Homo sapiens: one gene and its partner. The protein of the gene in region 2 purifies or fractionates together with the protein of the main gene of each other region. This does not show direct contact. Each region holds a gene or a part of one and is shown on either strand. Other genes may lie near its edges.

The links.
Region 1: the proteins of DAO (region 2) and GSTM1 purify together in Homo sapiens (affinity purification with mass spectrometry; one large-scale study listed by BioGRID and IntAct). This does not show direct contact.

The regions. Positions count from the first base shown.
Region 1 is NC_000001.11:109,690,817-109,694,245, reverse strand, and holds the end of GSTM1 (glutathione S-transferase Mu 1), read right to left. Parts: intron 1,041-3,429; coding exon 951-1,040; 3' UTR 501-950; downstream 1-500. UniProt on the Homo sapiens protein: Conjugation of reduced glutathione to a wide number of exogenous and endogenous hydrophobic electrophiles. Involved in the formation of glutathione conjugates of both prostaglandin A2 (PGA2) and prostaglandin J2 (PGJ2).
Region 2 is NC_000012.12:108,886,592-108,890,091, forward strand, and holds part of DAO (D-amino-acid oxidase), read left to right. Parts: intron 1-858; coding exon 859-973; intron 974-2,877; coding exon 2,878-2,954; intron 2,955-3,500. UniProt on the Homo sapiens protein: Catalyzes the oxidative deamination of D-amino acids with broad substrate specificity. Required to catabolize D-amino acids synthesized endogenously, of gastrointestinal bacterial origin or obtained from the diet, and to use these as nutrients.

The DNA of each region.
Region 1 (3,429 bases), on a different chromosome or scaffold from region 2:
CAGGAAAGAGAGGAAGTAAACCCAGAGAGAACGTCCTGATGACAGCTGTGCAGCAAGCCTGGAGAGGGTACCTGGAAGCCATCTGAGAAAAACAATAGAGATTGGGTCCTGGAGACCTAACAGAAGTGATGTAGTCATATAGTGGAGAAGGTAAAAGGGACCCTGGTTCTCTCTGATGGAGATTCCACCCCCTTGGGGTCCTATTCAATGAGACACAAGCTCTGTGCAATTATGGAAAGTACTCAATACGGCTGGATGAATGAATGGGACATCCAGGCCAAGAAAGAGACATCCTTTCCACAGTGCCTCATGGGGCTTCCTGCTCTGAGTCTCTCAGGAATGGGAGCAAGAATTCTCAAGCGCCTTACTATGCCCAGCAGAATCCTTTAGAACCCAGCCACTGCCAGGATCACCAGCCAGTCCCTTGGAAGAGGCAGTGACAGACAGACAGACAGTCTGGGTAGATGGCCAGGAGCAAATAAGACAAGACACACAGCAAATGTGGTTGAGGCTTTACTTCCATCAGGTAGGCCTAAGGCAGGGACCATGCTGCAGGAGCAGGGCCTGTAAACCAGTCAATGCTGCTCCTTCATGCAACACGGGGACAGCTCGGGGCTGAGCTCCACAGGCGAGGGGCCAGGCAGGCCCTTTAAAGCAGACACAACCACTAACAGGAAGGAAGGTCAGGCTGGCTTTAGTGCAGGGAAGGGTAATGATGGGAGGGGATGTTCACGAAGGATAGTGGGTAGCTGAGGCTTCAAAGGGCCTGCATGGGACAGGGGTTTAGGGGGAGTGAAGAGGGACAATGAAGTCTTGGGAGTAAAGATGGGAATAAACAGGAGAAAGGAACGAGGAGGCAGGTGCTGGGATGCAGAGTCCAGCTGCGCTGCACAGCCTGGGCAGCAGGCTGAGTATGGGCTCCTCACTCCCACCTCCTGGCCTTCAAGGCCCTACTTGTTGCCCCAGACAGCCATCTTTGAGAACACAGGTCTTGGGAGGAAGCGGCTGGACTTCATGTAGGCAGAGATCTTCTCCAAGCCCTGAGAGGGGGGAAAATAAGGCCAGAACTCAAGGTCAGCTGCCCATGAGGGCTGGGACAACCCCACTGCAGACACAGCAGGTCAGGGCCCTGGCCACAGCCTTTCCATGTGGGCTCAAGTGCTGAGGCATCACACAGCTTCTTAGGGTCCCCAGATTTGCGGAGTTAACTCTTCCAACTTCCTTTAAGTAATGTTGTACCACAGTAACAGCTAACACTTATGAAGATTCTACACGGTGCTGGGTGCTCTGTACCCAAGAGAAATTACAACGTAAGCTTAGAAAACCCACTCGACTGCTCTGCAAGGCTGAATCTATTATCACCATTTCTCATGTGGGAAACAGAAGTTCAGCAACTTCCTTACATTTAAATACCTAGTAAGGGGAATAGAACTGCAGTGTAGCCTGGTTCTGTCTCTCTCCAGTTCTGGCCTCTTCCTGACAAATTCTCTTCTTCTTCTGCCCCACCACCCCTCACACCAGGCCCTGTCACTCCTTGACTGCACAAACAGTCTCCTTTTCCACAGGGAGGCTCTTGGCTTGTCTGGGTATAGAGACACAGAAGGGACCTCCAGCAGAACAAAGGGGCTCTGAACACACTCACCCAATGTCTCAGTAAAACCTGGATGAAAGTGGAATGGGGGGTGGCAGTGCACAAGAAAATCAAAGGCGAGACTAGGCTCTAAACATTCCCCTTAAAGCAGAAAGTCCAAAGTTCTCCATCTAATACCTGAGCAAAATCTCACTGTGCCCTAACCCATGGCATCTCCAGCCCTGCTGCAGATCAGGCTACATGATACTCAGATGTGCTGTGCACAATCTTACCAGGATTGAATGCCCAGATAAGGTATTCAAAAACATCCGGCTCACACCTGTAATCCCAGCACATTGGGAAGCCGAGGTGGGTGGATCACCCGAGGTCAGGAGTTCAAGACCACCCTGGCCAACATGGTGAAAGCCCATCTCTACTAAAAATAGAAAAATTAGCTGGGCGTGGTGATAGACACTTGTAATCCCAGCTACTCGGGAGGCTGAGGCAGAGAATTGTTTGAACCCGGGAGGCAGAGGTTGCAGTAAGCCGAGGTCACGCAACTGCACTCCAGCCTGGGCAACAGCAAGACACGATCTCAAAAAAAAAAAAAAAAAAAAGATCCAGGACTGCCTGTTCTCAAACTGATTGACCCTGGCATGTCATAGGCCATAGACCTCAGCTCTCCTCCACCCCTCCCTTCCCACCACCTCTTACATAACTCCAAGGCCACTAAGCCTGGACCAGAACCAGAGCTGATGGGAACTAGCTGAGCAAGCAGATTTCTTGATGGGAAAGGGAAACAGATTCTAGGCTCAGAAGCCCGTTGGACTAATGCCTCAAATTCCCAGATCTGTACTAAAGTAGGATTTGTGCTCTGAAACAAGATCAGCAAGGGTGAGGGATGGTTCCCCGTGAGTGAGGGGCAGGCCCCGGGCCTGGTACCCAGGTGGTGCCACACACACCTCACAGGCTGCTCTGCCTGCAGCCCTCTCACTGCACTCATTTCCAGGATGGGGCAGTCATCTATACATCTCCCACTGTGCCTCACTCCCTGCCTCATGCAGAGAAGGTCGGTGAATAGGAGTAAAATCAGCATGCTACTCATCTCACAGGGGGAACACGTGGAACACTGGAGGGAAAAAAGAGGAAGAGGAGTGGCTCATATCTGTAATCCCAGCACTGAGGGAGGCTGATGTGGGCAGATCACCTGAGGTCAGGAGTTCGAGACCAGCCTGACCAACATGGCAAAACCCCATCTCTACTAAAAATACAAAAATTAGCCAGACGTGGTGGTGCACACCTGTAATCCCAACTAATCGTGCAGCTGAGGCAGTAGAATCGCTTGAACCCAGGAGGCGGAGGTTGCAGTGAGCCAAGATCACTCCATTGAACTCCAGCCTGGGCAACAGAGCAAGACTCCAGCACAAAAAAAAAAAAAAAAAAAAAAAAAGAATAGAGGTGGAGTAAGGAAGTGCCCCAGCACCGGGCATTTCAACATATACTCCTTCAACAGGGACACCCACATATGTACCTTAATCCAGCTACAGCCACAGCCCTGGCTCTCAGGATTCCCCACACTGGGGTCCAATCATGCAAAGCTTCTGGAGGTAGCTATGAATATTGCCTGTGGGTTCAGTACTAGACATCAATGTCACCGTTGTGTCAGTCCTACTATTGCCAGCTCCATCTATGGTCATGAAGTTCTCTGCCTCTTCCAAAGTGTCCTGGGCTGTGAAACCCAGGCTAGGTGAAGCCTAAGGCTTTTTCTTCTGTCACAAATGGGAGAGCCCTGACTGCCACCCATAGATCCAGAGGCTCACAGGGAGCCCAGCACAGCCTCCACTAGCTCTGGGACCCTG
Region 2 (3,500 bases):
AGTAGCGAGGACACACATGCATGCTATCATGCCTGGATAATTTTCTTTATTTTTTGTAGAGCCAGGGTCTTCCTATGTTACCCAGGCTTGTCTCAAACTCCTGACCTCAAGTGACCCTCCTGCCTCAGCCTCCTGAAGAGCTGGGATTATAGGCATGAGCCACTGCAACCAGCCAGAATTTTAATTCACACAGCTGTAAAAAACCAATGATTCTGATCAGTGGGCAGTGATTCGGGGCCCAGGCTCCTTCCATCTAATGGCTCTGCCGTTTTTCCACGTGCTTTTGAGGTCACCTCAATGTCACCATTCACATGGGCTGGTGACTGCAGAAGGATCATGCAGGACCACACGTGCAGAGTCTTTAGAGTCCCTTGGCCAGAAACAAGTCACACAGTCACATTTAGCTGCGAGAGGGTCTAGGAAATGTAGGTGAGCTGTGTGCCCAGGGGGAGGAGGAAAAGTTGTAGGAGCGGCAAGTCGATGTCTGCCACCAGTGTTTACAAGGAGGGGTGCTTGCAGCCAGACTGAACAGTGTGGCTCATAATCCCCAAAGCCAGGTCAAGGACTTCACTGAAACTCATCAGCCATGTAATCCCATGCTGGAGGTGCACTCCATATGGTTATGATGGGGCATCCTTCATTCCCTCTCTTCTTTATTCTATTAATGGGGAAATATTGGAAAATTTAGGAGGGAGAAGACCCAAGGCATTTGGGGAGTTGCAGGAGTGAACGTGGTGGATTTCTGGGTTTTGGACACACCCCAAGCTCCTGATCATGCCACAGCCCCATGCCAGCTGACCTAAGGTTTTTTGCCCAGCTCAGGGCATTGGGTGATCGAACTCTTCATGACCCTTCCAGGGACTGGAGCCAACAGACCTTTGACTATCTCCTGAGCCATGTCCATTCTCCCAACGCTGAAAACCTGGGCCTGTTCCTAATCTCGGGCTACAACCTCTTCCATGAAGCCATTCCGGTGGGTGAACAGTTCTTGACCATGAGGGATGAGCACCCAGGGCTGGGGTAGTGAGGGTGGGTGCAGCAGAGCCTTAATCACAGATGAGGGCGGGGTGCTTTGAGTCTCGTAGGCAACAGACTCCTGGGTTCAAAACAGGTTTGGTTTAAATTCTATTTTTGCTTTGAAAATTATTTTTGTTTTACATTTTGCTGTTAAATTGGCAGAGGACAAAGAATCTTCTGATGCCCAGGGGAAACTAGCCTTTGATTAGCATGGCTAAAATACAAACATGTTCTGCAGTGACGGGCACTTGGTGCTGAAGCCAAAAGGTTTCAAGTGCCCCTGAAGGTCCCAAGGCTTTTTATCAAGAAGGAATAAAATACTCATCAAAGCAAAAACTGCCAAAGCATTTATTATGTGCCAGGTCCAGTCCTAACTAATTTACAGCTAGCGACTAATTTAATTCTCTTTATAACCGGGAGGTAAGGGCTGTCCTTATCCTCACTTAATAAATGAGAAAACGGAGGCTCCAAGAAATGGAGTAACTTGCCCAAGGCCACAGAGCTCGCCAGTGGCAGAGCTGGGATTTGAACCCAGGCCATCTGTGACTCCATGGTGTCCAGTGTGCTAACAGGAACAGCACAGCCCTGGGACGGTTTGCTCAGGCTCCTTGGAGAGGGTGGTCTGGCGCTGTGCCCAGAGCCCCGTGCCAGCTCTCAAGGTTCATTCAACCTTTGGCACTGTGCTAAGGGCTTTATCCACATTATCTGTTACCTTTCATGGGACCAAGAGTATTTTTTTTTTTTTGAGACAGGGTCTCACTGTATTGCCCAGGCTGGAGTGCATTGGCATGATCTCGGCTCACTGCAACCTCTGCTTCCTGGGTTCAAGCCATTCTCCTGTCTCAGCCTCCTGAGTAATTGGGATTACAGGTGCGCACTACCACGCCTGGCTAATTTTTGTATTTTTAAGAGATGGGGTTTCACTATGACGGCCGGGCTGGTCTCGAACTCCTGACCTCAAGTGATCTGCCTGCCTTGGCCTCCCAAAGTGCTGGGATTACAGGCGTGAACCACTGCACCCGGCCAAGAGTGATTATTAACTCCATGATACAGACAAGGAAACTGAGTCTCAGAGAATTCAAGTAGCAAGTGATGAGGCTGGGGTCTCTGACACTATGCTCTGTTGTCTGACACTATGCTCTGTTGCTTTCTCTCATCCCCGGGGACTCTCACTGTTTCTGCTTTCTCTCCCCTATTTCTGACTTTTCCCCTATAACTCACCCTCGGTCTTACTCTTACCCTTACCATAAATAGGGGTTAAGAACATGAACTCTGGAACTAAGCTGTATGGGTTAAAATCCCAACACCACCATTTATTAGCTGTGTAATCTTAGACAAGTTATTTAATCTTTCTAAGCCTCAATTGGTCCATCTGTAAACTGGGGAAAGAATAGCATCCACCCCAATGGCTTCTTGTGAAGATTAAATGGACCAGTATAAGAAAATGCTTGGAACAGTGCCTTATATGCACTTAGCATTACATAAGTCTCTGTCATTATCATTTTTTTTTTTTTTGAGATGAAGTCTCGCTCTGTGGCCCAGGCTGGAGTGCAGCGGCACAATTTCGGCTTACTGCAACCTCCAGCTCCCAGATTCAAGCAATTCTCCTGCCTCAATCTCCTGAGTATCTAGGATTACAGGCATGCACCACCATATCTTGCTAATTTTTGTATTATTATTTAGTATAAACAGGGTTTCACCATGTTGGCCAGACTGGTCTGGAGCTCCTGACCTCAGGTGATCCACCCATCTCAGCTTCCCAAAGTGCTGGGATTACAGGTGTGAGCCACCTCGCCTGGCCCATTATCATTATTATTGACTTCCATCCCACCCAGTGCCCCCTTTGTCCTTCCTCTTCAGGACCCTTCCTGGAAGGACACAGTTCTGGGATTTCGGAAGCTGACCCCCAGAGAGCTGGATATGTTCCCAGATTACGGGTGAGTTTATTGTCACAGGCAAAGGGGACTGGGGCCTGACGAGTTAGCAGACCTGTCCAGAAGGCAGCAGAGGGTAGAGGCACCAGATTTCCTGTCCTACCCAGGCCCTGGTACCCTGGTCTCCTGGTCCTTGGTCCAGCTCCTTCAGAGAGGCTACCCACTCAAACCTGGCCTTGGGCTGGGAAGGTAGGGGGTATGAAATCACAGATCTCAAGCCCAGAAGCTCCATATCACCATATTGTTTTGTAGATGAAGATACTGAGTTTCAGAGAGGCTAAGTGACTTCCTAAGGTCACACAGCCAAGTGGCCAAACTGGGATTCCAACCAGTCTGTATGACCCCACACCCCTCCTTTCTTTTCTCTACAGCCTGATGCCTCTCTGGTCTTCTCCTCACCCCACCCCACACCACACCTGAATCCCCTCTACGAATGCACATTCAATCTCCACTTGCATTTTCCAATGTCAGATATGGCCTTTTCTGATAGAAAAATTTTCCTTGCATTGAGCTCAAAACCACGTCCCCCCTTGAACTTCACGTAGTGGT